2 separate regions of the Homo sapiens genome follow, and region 2 is reported to be linked to region 1. The links are microRNA targets in miRTarBase. Many come from high-throughput screens and were not tested one by one. Region 1 holds a microRNA gene; the other region holds the end of a gene's coding sequence.
The links. The annotated mature microRNA hsa-miR-4478 reads GAGGCUGAGCUGAGGAG and lies in region 1 at 4,233-4,249, shown strand. An mRNA with a match to its seed (bases 2 to 7 or 8) in the 3' UTR can be bound and repressed. Matches are read on the target gene's strand: a 7mer-m8 pairs with bases 2 to 8, a 7mer-A1 pairs with bases 2 to 7 and ends in A, and an 8mer does both.

Region 1 (7,722 bases):
AGCCTGAGAGCCTGAGAGCCAAGGGGATGTCTGGAGAGGATGTCTGGAGAGGTATCAGCCTAGAGCCTGAGAGCCAAGGGGATGTCTGGAGAGGTATCCAGGAGGCAGTTGAAATCAGGCCTGGAGATATTCACTTGGGAGTTGGAAGGTTACTGACAGGTGGTTGAAGGCAGTGCACAGCTGAGGCCACCCAGGAAAGGTCCTTGGAAGCCCTAAGCACCAAAGATATGGTGTTCACCTCACCCCCATGAGTCAAAAAGGAGTCTAAATTAAATTATAAAATGTAACACTTACATGCCTTACAAAACTCTTGGACTGGCACGGTGGCTCACACCTGTAATCCCAGCATTTTGGGAGGCCAAGATGGGCAGATTACCTGAGGTCAAGAGTTCGAGACCAGCCTGGCCAACATGGTGAAACCCCGTCTGTACTAAAAATACAAAAAGTTAGCCGAGCATAGTGGCGCATGCCTGTAATTCTAGCTACTCGGGGGGCTGAGGCAGGAGAATTGCTTGAACCTGGGAGGGAGAGGTTGCAGTGAGCCGAGATCACACCACTACACTCCAGCCTGAGCAACAGAGTGAGACTCCATCTCAAAAAACAAAAATAAAAATAAAAACAAAAAACGTTTGCAATCATCACATCCATGGGTTCACAGAAACACATTTTCCTCCTCATCTTCCTTGTTTGATGCTCCTGGTCTGATGGTGCCCTGAGGTGTCTACCTGCTTGCCGGCTAGGTGGCCCAGCTCCAAATCCAGGCAAAAACAAGAGGCTCAGGGGGCACCAACAGGCTGGGACCGAGGGGAACAAGATGCCCACAAAAGAGAGAAGGAACACCCAGGAAGACTGGAGGAAACCCAGGAGAGTGTGGCATCACTGGGGCCAAGGAAGGAGGGGGTTCCAAGAAAGAGGACATGATTAGTCATGTAGAAAACAAGAGGAGGCACGGAGATGAGGACTGAAGAGGGGGCCCGGATATGGCTGTGGGGCTGCCAGGCAGGCTCAGTAAAGCAAAGCTGGTCACCTCTCCACGTATCTCTGCTCAAGGGGGCCAGCCTTTGGTGGGGACACTCGGGTGCCCTTTGCCCTTGAGGATCCTCCGGACCTACAAACAAGGAGGGAGTAAGACCCTGGGGTAGGGTTGAGGCGAGCTGACCTCAGAAGGAGAAAAGGAGACCAAATATTTCAGTGGACTCAAGGCAGGGGGCGCCTCTGGGTGGCAGTCCCTCCTCTGACCACAAGGGGGCAGCATAAAAGCAGGTCCTGCGTGGGCTCAGGCTTCTGTAAGGAGTCGGCTTCCAGATGCTGTTTTCATCTGTGATGCGTCCTTGGGCTCTCTGGGCCTCAGTTTCTTTCTCCGCAAAATGGGGCAGTTGGACATCATATTCTCTTGGACCCTGTTGGGATCCCCTTCATTCTGCATCCCCTTACCGCCTTCCCAGCTCAATGTGACACCCCCCATCTGACCACAATAAGTGTGTTAAGTGAGTAAGGTCAATGGCACAGGTATAGCATGTGGTGAGAACACAGAATGCTAGCCCGAGGAGGCCTACAGGCGTGTGCAAGGTTAGCTGAGTGAGGACAGACCATCCCATGAGCTTGGGTTAAACCTGCCTGCAGCGACCGTCTGTGAAGGTGGCCTCTGCTTCCTCTTACGGGGAGTACTGGGGTGGGGGTGGGGCTGCCTCTGCCTCTTCTGTCTGCCCCCAGGGCAGAGCTCTGGCTCTTTGTGCAGGCTCCTTGTCCTGCCACTGTTTGCCCTCTCTGGGACATGTCAGCACCTGTGCCCTCTTTGGGCCTCAGGGCTCATCGAGACAAGGAGGGAAAGAGCATGAGAGTCTCCTCAGCACTGCTGGTCCTCAGGTCTCTGAGGCAGCCCCACCCTATCCTGGGATGCCTCCCAGTGCTGCCCTGTGGGTCTGCAGTCCTTTGGTGCCAGTTGGTGGGAGGGGCAATGTGAGGGTCACGACAGTTGATTCCTGGCTCTGGGCCGCCATCAGATCTTCAGAGGGGCTGGTGTGCTGGTGGCTGCTGGTGGCCTCAGCTGGGGACAAGGAGTCAGGGTTGGAGCCTCATTCCATGTCTGACAAAGTGTGGCTTTAGTTGATCACTGCTGGTGGGTGGCAGGGAAGCTGAAGCCAGGGCAGGAGCAAGAGGTGGCCTGGGGAGACAGTACCTCTGTGGAGGGCCCCTTCCCCTCAGAAGCTGGGCCAGCCCAGGGCAGCCGAGGACAGTGACACAGGAGAACACCCACGGGCCAGTTGTCCGGTGCCAGCTCCCCGGCTGTGTGATCTTGGGCAAGTGGGCAACCCTCTCTGAGCTATGGTAGGGAGACCTATCCAGAATTCAGGAAAGCATGTTATAGGCCCAGGGCAGTCCTGGTATTGGGGCAAAGAAGGGCAGGCAACCCTGGGTCACCGACTTGTCCTAGGGGTCCAGTCCCCGGGATTTGGCCTCTTGGAGCCCACTGGGTGGGTGTCTAGGGGAAACTGAAGATGGATCTGACTCAGTTGGGTCCTGGTACCAGCATTTTGGCTTGGGAGTGGGAAAGGGTAATAAAGGACTCTACAGTCACAAGAGCTTGGCCGCTGCCTGGACAGGCAGCCTATGCAAGTCCCCTCCTATCTCTGAGCTGCCATTTCTTTATCTTTCTGAGTTCCACCTGGGGCAGGACCTTCAGCTTCCCAAGTCTCACCAGACCATCGCCTCCCGGGTGCCAGGCTGAGTTGGCTCTCAGGCCCTCTCTTTCCCAGGCGGGCCTCGGGTGGTGCCAGGTGCCGCAGGAGCTTCCGGTTGGTGCAGGGAGCTGGCTGGCGTGGGCTGTCTGAGGGCAACTGTCTCGGTGCTTAGCTGAGGCCTCATCGAGTGGCACCTGTGGCCCGGGCCAGCTGGGATGGGAAAGGGTGGTCTGGCCTCCACCTGCTCAGCTCACTTGCCCTCTAGCCACTCTCACTTGAGCCTCAGCCTCCTGTATCTGCTGCTGCTGCTGGAGCCCAAGGGGCTGGGGCCATGGCTGGGTGCCCCAAAGACAGGAGAGAAGGAGGTGCTGGGGCTTTGCGCCCTGGAGGGGACAGCTAGAGACTCATCAGGCAGGAAGTATCTCCTCTTCTTGATTCTGATCCTTCACCCACCTATGTCAGCCTCACACCTGTACCTGTACACCTGTGGGGCAGCCTTCCCCACCTGTGGTTTTCCCCACTTCTGGAGCCCTAGAAGAATATGTAGAGCAGGCTTGGGGTGTGGCCCCATGGAGCACCCCCAAACTGCCTCTGGTCCCCAGGCTCCGGCTTGTGCTGTCCCTTCCCGCTGTCTGGATTTTGGCCTGTCTGTGGGACCTTGAGGAGCCTGGAGCCTGGAGCTGCCAGCTCGTCTGGGCCCTCCAGGCTCCAGGATCTCTGGAGGCCATGGGTGGGGCTGGTGCTGGCCTTGTTGGTGTTGCTCCTGCTGGAGTAGTGGTGCCCTCTGGCATCTGTGCCTTCCACGGCAGGTCACTGGTGCCATTTGCCATGTGCAGTGGGTGCTGGAGTCTAAGCTCGTGGAAAACTTCCAAGGCCTGGGCTATGGTCCTCATGGCCGTGCGGCCTGCCTTGACACACACAGAAGGGACACATGCACTAGTGTGCGTTCAGGGGACACGTGAACACACCCCTCATATTCAGACAGGTGTAAACAGCTCAGCCACACAAGTGCTGAGCTCCAGCAGACTCACGCACGCAGCCACACATATAGACAAGGTACAGGTGTAGCCAGTGTGTGAACATTGATAAGTCTGTCAAGGCAGATATGTGCACAGTCCAGAACACAAGACGGGTAGAAAGGCAGACCTACAAATGTGCACAGATCCCTGCCAACAAACATGCATATCCATACATGCACATATGCATACACAAGCTGTCATGGGCACACTTACAGGGGAACATGCCTTACTCAGAGCACAGAGCATTTCTCCAGCCCTCCCTGCATCCACTGCAAATGGGGACACATGTCCTATCCCTCAGCAGGCAGGGAAGGGCTGGGGGAGGGAACTTCACCTTTTCTTAGACCCATGGCAATGGAAAGTGGGCACCATCTTGGGTGATGTAGCCAAATGTCTCCTGTTCTGGGAGTCTCGGCACACATAGAAGATTCTGGAGAGGAGGGGGAGGTGCAAGGCATGATCCACTTCAAGCAGCCACCAAGCCCAGTGGGAGCTGGGTCTCTGGGCTTAGCAAGACAAGAGCCCAGGGGCCGAGGCTGAGCTGAGGAGCCTCCAAACCTGTAGACAGGGTCATGCAGTACTAGGGGCGAGCCTCATCCCCTGCAGCCCTGGCCTCTGCAGGGACAAGGGAGAGGAGAGGGTACGTCTGCAGGAGGGATTGTGGATTCAGCCTCCCATGTAGGATATGAAGCGACTCAGGCTGGGAGCAATCAGAGATCCCTGGGTTTGTCATGGCGCTGGGGTCTCCTTAGGACATCAGAGCCAGCTGTTACCTGCAGGGAAACCATCCAGATATATTTAGATACACACATACTTAGCATTGCATTACAATTGCTGACAGTATTCAGCACAGTACCATGCTGTACAGGTTTATAGTGTAGGAGCAATAGGCTATGCCATGTGGCCTAGTTGTGCAGTAGGCTACACCATCTAGGTTCATGTAAGTTTGCCCACCAAAATTGCCCGGTGACACATTTCTCAGAATGTATCCCCATCTTTTTTTTTTTTTTTTTTTTGAGATGGAGTCTCACTCTGTCGTCCAGGCTGGAGTGCAGTGGCACGATCTCGGCTCACTGCAACCTCCGCCTCCCGGGTTCAAACAATTCTTCTGCCTCAGCTTCCTGAGCAGCTGGGATTACAATCACGTGCCACCACACCCAGCTAATTTTTGTATTTTTAGTAGAGATGGGGTTTCGCTATGTTGGCCAGGCTCATCTCGAACTACTGACCTCAGGTGATCCGCCCACCTCGGCCTTCCAAAGTGCTGGGATTACAGGCATGAGCCACTGTGCCCGGTCGTATCCCCATCATTAAGTAACGCATGACTGTGTTCATAAGGTTGTGCAACCGGTTCCACTATGGCGCTCCAGAACATTTTTGTGACCCCACAAGAAACCCTGTGGCCATGAGATGTCACTCCCCATTCCGTCAGCCTCTGCAACCACTAATTCACTGTTCGTCTCCATGGATTTTCGTATTCTGGGCATTTGGTAGGAATGGAATTAGACATTATGTGGCCTTCCGTGTCTGGCTTCTTTCACTTAGCATAATGTTTTCAGGGCCCTGTGCCTCTGGTTTATAAGTGAGGACACTGGCCCAGACAGAGGGAGTGACTGTCCAAAGTCACATAGCAGCCAGGAGTCAGGCCCCTACACAGTGTTGGCTTTTTTAGGACCTCAGCCTTGGTCCCTGGGGTTGTGGGCTGTGGACAATGGAAGAGGTCACACTTCATCTAAAGGGGCAGCTATTACTCAGCTCTGCCTGGGACAGAATCCAGGGGCAGCACTGCCTAATACTAAACACTGTAAATAATGATACAAACGGCCAGGCACGGTGGCTCAAGCCTGTAGTTCCAGCTACTTGGGAGGCTGAGGCAGGAGGATCACTTGAGCTCAGGAGGTCAAGGCTGCAGTGAGCCATGATTGTGCCACTGCACTCCAGTCTGGGTGACAGAGAAAGACCCTGTCTCAAAAAAAAAAAAAAAGTTACAAATAACACCAGCTAACATTTTGCATGCTTCTTTTGTGCCTGGTGCTGTTCTAAAGAAGTGCTGTATAGGCACTTTCTTATTTAATCTCCATGACAATCTTGGTGAAAGTGCTGTTATTATCCCCGTTATGCAGACGAAGGAAGCAGAGCACAGAGAGGTTAAGTAACTCAGCCAAGGACACACAGCAAGCTAGTGGCAGAGTTAGGATTGGAACCCAGGTAGTCTGACTCCAGAGCCCCTGCTCTTACCCACCTATACAGATGCATTCCTTCTTCCAGATTTGTAAAGGAAGGCAGTAATACAGATTTTAATGTGAAACCTCATAAGTTTAAATGTTTCCAAGTGTCGACAACTTATGACAATTGTTTTTTGACACCGTACAGGCTGCAGGGCCTAAGCCTGGAAAGTTTCGTTTAATACAAAGGGAGAGGGCCCTCACCTTTGGTTTCTTCCTCAGCATCACTGCCATTCTGTCCAATACCACTTGGTCATCTTCTCCCTGACATTTCTTGCAGAGGCAGAGAGAGCCTGACATTGGGCACCCAGGTCCCGCTGAGGGTCGTGCTATAGCAGACAGCCCCATGGCCTGGTGCTGGCCTTGTGCCTGGCAGTGTGACTCTGGGCCAGTCCCTTCCCCTCCCTCAGTCATTCTTTTCTCCTCTGCAACCTGGGCGGGGAAATTTCTCATGGGATTAAATGTGATAACTGGCACAGACTAGTCATTCAATAGCCATGGTTTTTTTTTTTTTTTTTTTTGAGACAGGGGTCTCACTATGTTGCCCAGGCTGGTCTCGAACTCCTGGCCTCAAGTGGTCCTCCACCCTTGGCCTCCCAAAGCTCTGGGATTACAGGCATCAGCCACTGTGCCTGACTGCCATAACCATTAGCTGACCCAGAAACAACGGGAGATACAACCTGTTGTATCTGCATAAAGGGCCAACATTTGGGTTGCAGAGGTTTGTTGAGACTAATAATACCATTTATTGAGCACTGAGATAATTCCAGATACAGTGCACATTACATGCATTGCCTCATTCAGTCCTGAACTTTTTAAGCCCTGGAGGCCAGCCATTAAGGTTATGGGCCTAAGGTTTGAGCTAGGCGGCTGATATGGTTTGGGTGTGTCCCCACCAAATCTCATCTTGAATTGTAGTTCCCATAATCCCCACATGTTGTGGGAGGGGCCCGGTGGGAGGTAATTTAATCACGGGGGTGGTTACCCTCATGCTGTTCTCATGATAGTGAGTGAGTTCTCACGAGATCTGATGGGAGGGACTTTCCCACCTTGTGCTCAGCACTTCTCCTTCCTGCCATCATGTGAAGAAGGATGTGTTTGCTTCCCCTTCCATCATCGTTGTAAGTTTCCTGAGGCCTCCCCAGCCATGCTGAACTGTGAGTCAATTAAACCTCTTTCCTTTATAAATTACCCGGTCTCGGGCAGTCCTTTATAGCAGCGTGAGAACGGACTAATACAGCAGCCTTCTTAGCTGTCAGACCTTGGAGAATTACTCAGCTTCTGAGTGTCTTTATTTCCTTCCCCAGAATATGGGGAGAATAATACCCACCTTTAGGGCAGCAGCAATGATACAATGAATTTAAACTTAAAACATGTGTAGCACTTAGAACAATTTCTCACATTCAGTAAACACTGCAAGTTAGCTTTTGTCCTTATCACAATTAATTCCCATTTTACTGATGGAGAAACTGAGGTCAAAGAAAAATAAGCGACTTGTCCAAGGCAGTGGTTCTCAACAAGGGTGATTGTACTCCTGGGGGGCCATTTGTCAATGTCTGGAGACATTGTGGTTGTCACATCTCAGGGGTGCTGCAGGGATGCTGCTGAATACCCTCCCGTGCACGGGACACCCCTGCAGCACAGATGTTTCTAACCCAGAATGTCCTGGTGTTGACGTTGAGAAGCCCTGATCTAAGGTAACGCAACCAAAAAGTGACATAATCAGGGTTTGAACCCAAGCTAGGGGCTCCAACCTTGCACTCTACCGCCCTTGTCATCTCCCTCCAGGGTGAGTCC
Region 2 (7,345 bases), not on the chromosome of region 1:
TTCCCTTTCTCTCCCTAAGGCTGCTCCAGCAGGGAGTTTAGCTCCATGGACACCTTTGAAGACTGTGAAGGCGCAGAAGACATGGAAAAGGAGAGCAGTGCTCTGAGTGTAATTACTTCCCTTTTGTTTCTTTCATCTTCTTCCCTCCTTCCTATTCATCAGCTCCTCCTGCCTCCTGTCCCTAGCCTCCATCCCTCTCCCCCTCCTCAGGATTCTCACCCATAAGGACCTGGTTAAGCCAGGGAGCCGAGGTCACCAGACCCTCAAACTGGCTCTGACCCTCCTAGTCCAGCATGTCCCCACGTGGCTGTCTCCTTGGCGGTGCGCTGGTGTCCGGTCATAACTGGGGCTCCCGCTGAGAGCCCCGTGGCCCAGGTGGGAGGGCTGGGGTGGGCCTCAGCCTGCCAGCGGGAGTCACCACCTTGCCCGGTCTGGCCACAGCCTCCAGCAATAACTCTGAGGGTGCACCCGTCCCCTCCCTTCCAGCTCGCGGGCCTTTTCCAGTCGGACGACAGTCACGAAACCTGTTCCTCCAAATCTGCTTTCCTGGAGAGGGGAGAAAGCAGCCAGGGAGAAAAAGAAGAACGCGATGAGGAGGAAACGTGAGTGTGAGCGAGGAAAGACTAAGCGCCTCTTTGGGCCACGGCGTCTCTGACTTTCTTCTCGGAATTGCAGGGCGACCCGCAGCACCGAGGAGGAGCGCGCTGGGGCGTCCACGGGCCGGCTGGCTCCTGCGGGGGCGACGGCTGGTTTCCAGGCGAGGGCGCTGCGCCCGAGGACCTCCGCCCAGGAGAGCTGACCTCCCTGCGGACGCCCCCGCTCCTCGGCTCCAGAGCGCCCGCATTCCCGGGAGAGGCGGTGTGGGGGCCCGGGCCCTGCCCAGCTACGCAGAAAGCAGCCGGAGCCTCGGCGGCGGCAGAAAGGGGACAACCAGGGCCTCCTCCGAGGAGCCCGAGGGGTGTCCTGGGTGCGCGCCTAGCTCCGCACGGGGGACCTCGGAGCTGCTCTAAGGCGCCTGCAGAGGCGAGCAGAGCCCGCAGCCCACGCCTTCTCGACCGCGCACTTCGATATTCGGAGCCGGGCAATTCTTTGCTGCGTGGGCTTCTCTGTGCTCCCACGGTAGGATGTTTAGTAGCACCCCTGGCCTCTACCCACTAGGTGCCAGGAATGCGCCACCCCATCCTCCACCCCGCCCCCAAATCGTGACAATCAAAAATGCCTGCAGACACGCCCGCATTTCTCCAGGGCGGGGTGGGAATCGGTTGAGAGCCGCTTAGCCCGAGCCTTGGAGGAGCCGGAGCCGCTCCAACCCGGCGGGGGCCGCAGACTGGGAGCTCCCGGTCCGCCTCCCAGCATCCCTGCGAGCGTTCATGGGGTGTTCGTGTTAGTGCCAAGATTGCTTCGTTGTAGAGAGAGTTCGTTCCAAGTTACTTTCTGAGGTATTTTATGTATCGATTTATTAGTTTTTAAATGAGTTTTGTTAGTTTCAGTTGTATTTTATTTTTAGTTTTATTAGTTGATTTTCATTTCTTTGTAGCTTTCTGGTTATTTAATTTTATAGTTTCAGTTACTGGTTTATAGTTACTTTATTTTCAAAGTTATTTAGTTGTTCATTTTCAGTTATTTATATGTAGTTGTTTTGTTTTAGGAGTTACAGATGTTCAAATTAATTTGCTTGGAATTTATTTATTTATTTATTTATTTATTTTTCGAGACGGAGTCTCGCTCTGTCGCCCAGGCTGGAGTGCAGTGGTGTGATCTCGGCTCACTGCAAACCGCCTCCCGGGTTCACGCCATTCTCCTGCCTCAGCCTCCTGAGTAGCTGGGACTACAGGCGCCCGCCACCACGCCCGGCTAATTTTTTATTTGGATTTTTAGTAGAGACGGGGTTTCCCCGTGTTAGCCAGGATGGTCTCGATCTCCTGACCTCGTGATCCCCCTGCCTCGGCCTCCCAAAGTGCTGGGATTACAGGCGTGAGCCACCGCGCCCAGCCGGAATTTATTTTTAATTATCTTTACAATTATTATCTGAGTTATTTACCTTCATAGTTATTTCACTTTATCTTATTGGAGTTTTTGAGTTATTTATTTTTACAGTAACTTATTTGACTATTAAACACTCACTGGAAGTTCATGAACTACTGTCAAGTTATTTATTTTCAGAGTGAAATGTTTTAATGAAGGGTTTCCCCTAGTTATCTGGTTTTCGAGTTGCTTATGTTCACAGGTATTTATTTTCAGTTATTTTATATTTGAGTTGTTTATTTTTATGTTCTTTTTTTCAAGTTACTTGGTTTTTAGTTATTTCATTTTCAGCATTACTTCATATTTGAACATTATATTTTCTGAATTTTTAAAGAGTTTTTGAGGTATTTAGTTTTTGAGCTATTTTCAGAGTTATTTATTCTCAGTTATTTCTTTTCAGCTTTGTATTTGCCATTCAAATTTTTTTTCTGTTCTTTATTTAATTGTCAGATTTTTTTTTCTTTTTTTTTTTTTTTGAGATGGAGTTTTGCTCTTGTCACCCAGGCTGGAGTGAAGTGCCGCAATCTTGGCTCACTGCAACCTCCGCCTCCCGGGTTCAAGCAATTCTCCTACCTCAGCCTCCCAAGTAGTTGAGATTACAGGCACCTGCCACCATGCCCGGCTAATTTGTTGTTGTTGTTGTTGAGACGGAGTCTCTCTCTGTCACCCAGGCTGGAGTGCAGTGGTGCAATCTCGGCTCACTGCAAGCTCCACCTCCCGGGTTCACGCTATTCTCCTGTCTCAGCCTCCTGAATAGCTGGGACTACAGGCATCTGCCACCACGCCTGGCTAATTTTGTTTTGTATTTTTTTTTTTTTTTAAGTAAAGATGAGGTTTCACCATGTTAGCCAGGATGGTCTGGATCTCCTGACCGGGTTTCGCCATGTTTGCCAGGCTGGTCTCCAACTCCTGACCTCAGGTGATCCATTCGCGTTGGCCTCCCAAAGTGCTGGGATTACAGGTGTGAGCCACCACACCCGGCCCTCAGAATTATTTAGAGTTAGAATTCTTAGTCTACTAGTCAAGTTTCAATCAAGAGACACTGTATCAGTTATTTCAAGAGAGAATTTAATATAAATAATTGTTATCCAGCTAGTAGAGATTTAAAAAAAAGTAGTGATAATGAGATATCATGAAGATTTTGACTGCAAGCTCCCAGCCCAAGGACTCATACAACAAAGAAAAGAGGTTGAAAATATCAAAACTCAGAAATATGAAGGTGGCCCTAGGGCTGGGGGTTAGTCCTCTGAGGAGGAGGCACTATTAATTGTACACGTGGCCCAAGGGCTCAGAGCTCAAGGTCCAGGAGCTGGACGCAGAATTCTGGAGAGGGGACATGGCCAGCCCGTGCTGCTGTCTCTGAATGGGCATCAGCAGGCTGGTTATAGGAGTGCTAGGAAAATGGCAAGCTGGAACCAACTCCCGCTACTGGAACCAGCTGTCACTCTCAGGGTGGAGACAGGATGCTGACAGTGGGGGTGGGGTGGGGTGCACACAGGAAGGAGCCCATGGTGACCCTGCACCCCAGAGCTGGGAAGGGTGGGCTGGAAGCTTAATTACCAGCACACTCAGCTTTAGAGTTACATAGAGTTATGTTAGGATTCCGTTAGTTTTGGAATTGTCAGGGGTGATTTGATTTCACATTTTCATGGGATATGGGATTGGGATGAGTCTTCAGTCTCCTGGTTTGTTTCTGGAATAGAGTGGGCCACACCTCCCAGGAGTCTCCCCCAGGGAACTCAAGACAATCACTTTAGAATTCAAGAAAACAAAAATAATGTGTCTCACTTCGTTCATAAAGAAGGCCTTTGACAACGTGGCCAAAAAGGGGCAGAGCCTAAGGGACAGACTCTTAGAAAGATGCCCTTGGAACAGGGTCCCGCAGAGTGTTCCTCTCAAATTCTTTAGAACTTTACACTGTTTTGTGGGGCCACCCTCTCCCACGCCCTTTCCTAACAACAGTGTCTTTCTTGATAGAGTATGTTTCAAATTTGTAGACTGTTTGCACAATAAAATAAAGTTCCTCCCAAATCAAGAATCTGTAATCTTAGGTTCTTCTACCTGCATTATTCTTCAGCCCACATTGTTCCATTTGACCATCAGAATGTTTACATATGTATATATGTCTGGATGGATGGAAGGATGGATGGATGGATGGATGGATACACTTATTTTATTCAATATCTATTTCCTGAGCATTCCCCTGCCCTGAGGATGGTTCTGGCACCAGGTAGAGACCAGGGAGGTATGAAGATGAGTGAGGCTCTCATTCCAGTGGGGGAGACAGATGTGGAAAAATAATCACAACACAATGTGGCAAATTCTCTGGGAGCATAAAACACCATCACTGACTCTTCCTGATACCGTCAGGAAGGGGTGACATTAGAACTGGGTCTTACTGGCAAGTGTTCTTCTCCTGGTGGAGAAGGAGAAGGGCATCCTGGCAGAGGGAATAGCATGAGCTCAGGTACAGGGGCACAGAGGAGCTGTGCATGGCAGGTAGGACGAGTTGATGGAGGCTGCTGGGTCACAGGGTTCAGAAAGGCACTAAGCTTAAGAGCTGGCCCTGGTGCTTGACAGATCCTGCTTCATTTGGTCCTGCAGCAAGTCTGCAAGATAGTAGGGAGCAACCTCAGGAGTCCCATGCTTCTCCTGACCTTACTTTTCCAAACACAGTTTACATTTCTGGATATCTTAAGCTCCTTCTTGATTTTATCCATCTCCCACTTTTCACGTGTCCATCGGAGGTGAGTTGCCCCCTCTCCTTCACCTTTTGATTCCTGCTGCTTACACATCTGTAGGGATGGAGGAGGGTTGAGACCAGAAAGCTGTGAAGTGCAGACTTCCTCTGACAAGGGAGGTGGAGGAGAGCAGGGCAGAGACCTGCTTGTGGGAATGGCATGCAGAAGTTCTGCAGACCAGCACAGTGGGGAATGGGCTCCGGACATCACCAGCTGTGACTGCCTCCAGCTGCATTCAGCAACCATGGAAAGGTCGTGGGGATGCCTTTCCAAAAGTGGGAGGCTGCTTTAGATCCAACCCAGGCTTATGAATGCAACAGATTGGGATTTTTTAAAGCACGTAGAGCCCTTTGCAGCATTAACAGCAATAAACATGCCTCCCAAGTCAAAAGAAAATATAGTCCTAAGACTATACTTTCAGGGATCATTTCTATAGTTCGTCACTAGAGAAGTTTCTCTGAACGTGTAGAGCACTGATGCAGCCAAAAAACACATGAAAAAATGCTCATCATCACTGGCCATCAGAGAAATGCAAATCAAAACCACAGTGAGATACCATCTCACACCAGTTAGAATGGCAATCATTAAAAAGTCAGGAAACAACAGGTGCTGGAGAGGATGTGGAGAAATAGGAACACTTTTACACTGTTGGTGGGACTGTAAACTAGTTCAACCATTGTGGAAGTCAGTGTGGCGATTCCTCAGGGATCTAGAACTAGAAATACCATTTGACCCAGCCATCCCATTACTGGGTATATACCCAAAGGACTATAAATCATGCTGCTATAAAGACACATGCACACGTATGTTTATTGTGGCACTATTCACAATAGCAAAGACTTGGAACCAACCCAAATGTCCAACAATGATAGACTGGATTAAGAAAATGTGGCACATATACACCATGGAATACTATGCAGCCATAAAAAATGGTGAGTTCATGTCCTTTGTAGGGACATGGATGAAATTGGAAATCATCATTCTCAGTAAACTATTGCAAGGACAAAAAACAAAACACCACATATTCTCACTCATAGGTGGGAATTGAACAATGAGAACACATGGACACAGGAAGGGGAACATCCCATTCTGGGGACTGTTGTGGGGTGGGGGAAGGGGGGAGGGATAGCATTAGGAGATATACCTAATGCTAAATGACGAGTTAATGGGTGCAGCACACCAGCATGGCACATGTATACATATGTAACTAACCTGCACATTGTGCACATGTACCCTAAAACTTAAAGTATAATAATAATAAATTAAAAAAAAAGAAAATATAGTCCTACACAATCTGTTACAATGGTGGTGTATTTTTACACTTTTTATAATACACATCTATGCATTCAGTCTTGACGTGTGTGTGTGTGTGTGTGTGTGTGTGTGTGTTTCTCAGTCAACTTCTCTGCTTACAGTGTCTATCACAATATATCCATTTCCCTATGAGAATCCATTTCTCTGTGAGAACATGTAAGAACTTCAGATGGTCTCTCATCTTAGCTGAACAGAAGAGTCTGTTGGGTTCTGACCACTTGCCTCAGGAAACACATCACTTGTATCCTCTCAAACATTTGACTGTTGAATAGCCAGCCACTCACTATGGAAACACCCCCCAAAGCATTCTCAATCCTTTGGATCTCGGCCCTTTTCTGGATCTATGAGGATGTCCATACTTAATAATTCTAGCAGAATGCAAATTGGCCAAACCTCACAAGCCTCATAGGAAGACCCTGTTTGCAAATGTCTTGCCACAGGTGGGTGACCAGGGGAGTCATTCCAATACCAGTCATTGCTGGAGGTTCCTGGGGTATTGTCCTCCAGTGATCCAGGATGGTCCAATATGACCTTTCACTCCAGCCTCCTTGTCAAAGCCCCAAGCTGCTGCTCTGCTTGCTGGTGTCGTCTGGGAAAAAGCTACCCTTTGGGGCTCAGAGACTCAGACTCCCCACTGAGCCCATGGTGGGCTGCAGGGTGGGACAGGAATCATGGGATAATTCTCATAAAATTGTGCCAGGTACACCGTCTGTTCCCAGTGGACACGACATTCCCTATTCTACACCTGGACACACTGCTCATTCAGGAAATAGTTGTGCATTTTTAGACTTCTTAAAAACAGGGGAAAAAAGAGTGGCTTTTCTGTGAGTGACATTTGTGTCACCTTGTTTAAGTATAAATGGAAAAGAATCCAAAACCACCAGATAAAATCCCTCAGACTTAGAAGTTGTTCAGATCCTCCGTGGCTATATGATGTTGCCTGTTGTCCACCAGAGGAACTTAGATTTCAAAATACTGCTGACAATTGGGAATGCTGTGACCTCAGATTAAAGTGCCCTGGCTGAAGCATTAGAACTAAAAGCAGACCCAGATCTGTAAAATCTGATGGGAGTCTGAGTTCATGTTAAACATCAGCCATGCATTATGAAATATTAGAAAAGTTAGAGATCCTCTAAACCAGCCTTCCCAGAGTATACTTTGCAGAATATGCAGAAGAGTGTAAGAGCTTTTTTTTTTTTTGAATGAAGTCTCGCTCTGTTGCCAGGCTGGAGTGCAGTGGCATGATCTTGGCTCACTGCAACCTC

Region 2: miRTarBase lists MCF2L2 as a target of hsa-miR-4478. Seed matches in the 3' UTR shown: 7mer-m8 at 1,807-1,813.

What each region holds. Positions count from the first base shown.
Region 1 is chr9:122,116,674-122,124,395 of GRCh38, reverse strand. It overlaps MIR4478 (microRNA 4478), which reads left to right and starts at 4,229; the gene lies at 4,229-4,314.
Region 2 is chr3:183,172,834-183,180,178 of GRCh38, reverse strand. MCF2L2 (MCF.2 cell line derived transforming sequence-like 2) reads left to right here. Exons shown (of 30, transcript NM_015078.4): 28 at 20-108; 29 at 487-602; 30 at 676-2,138. The coding sequence ends at 799. It also overlaps the pseudogene SNORD3P4. Among named protein-coding and RNA genes, the nearest start is that of LAMP3, 14 kb to the right of the region's middle. RefSeq lists a silencer at 829-918.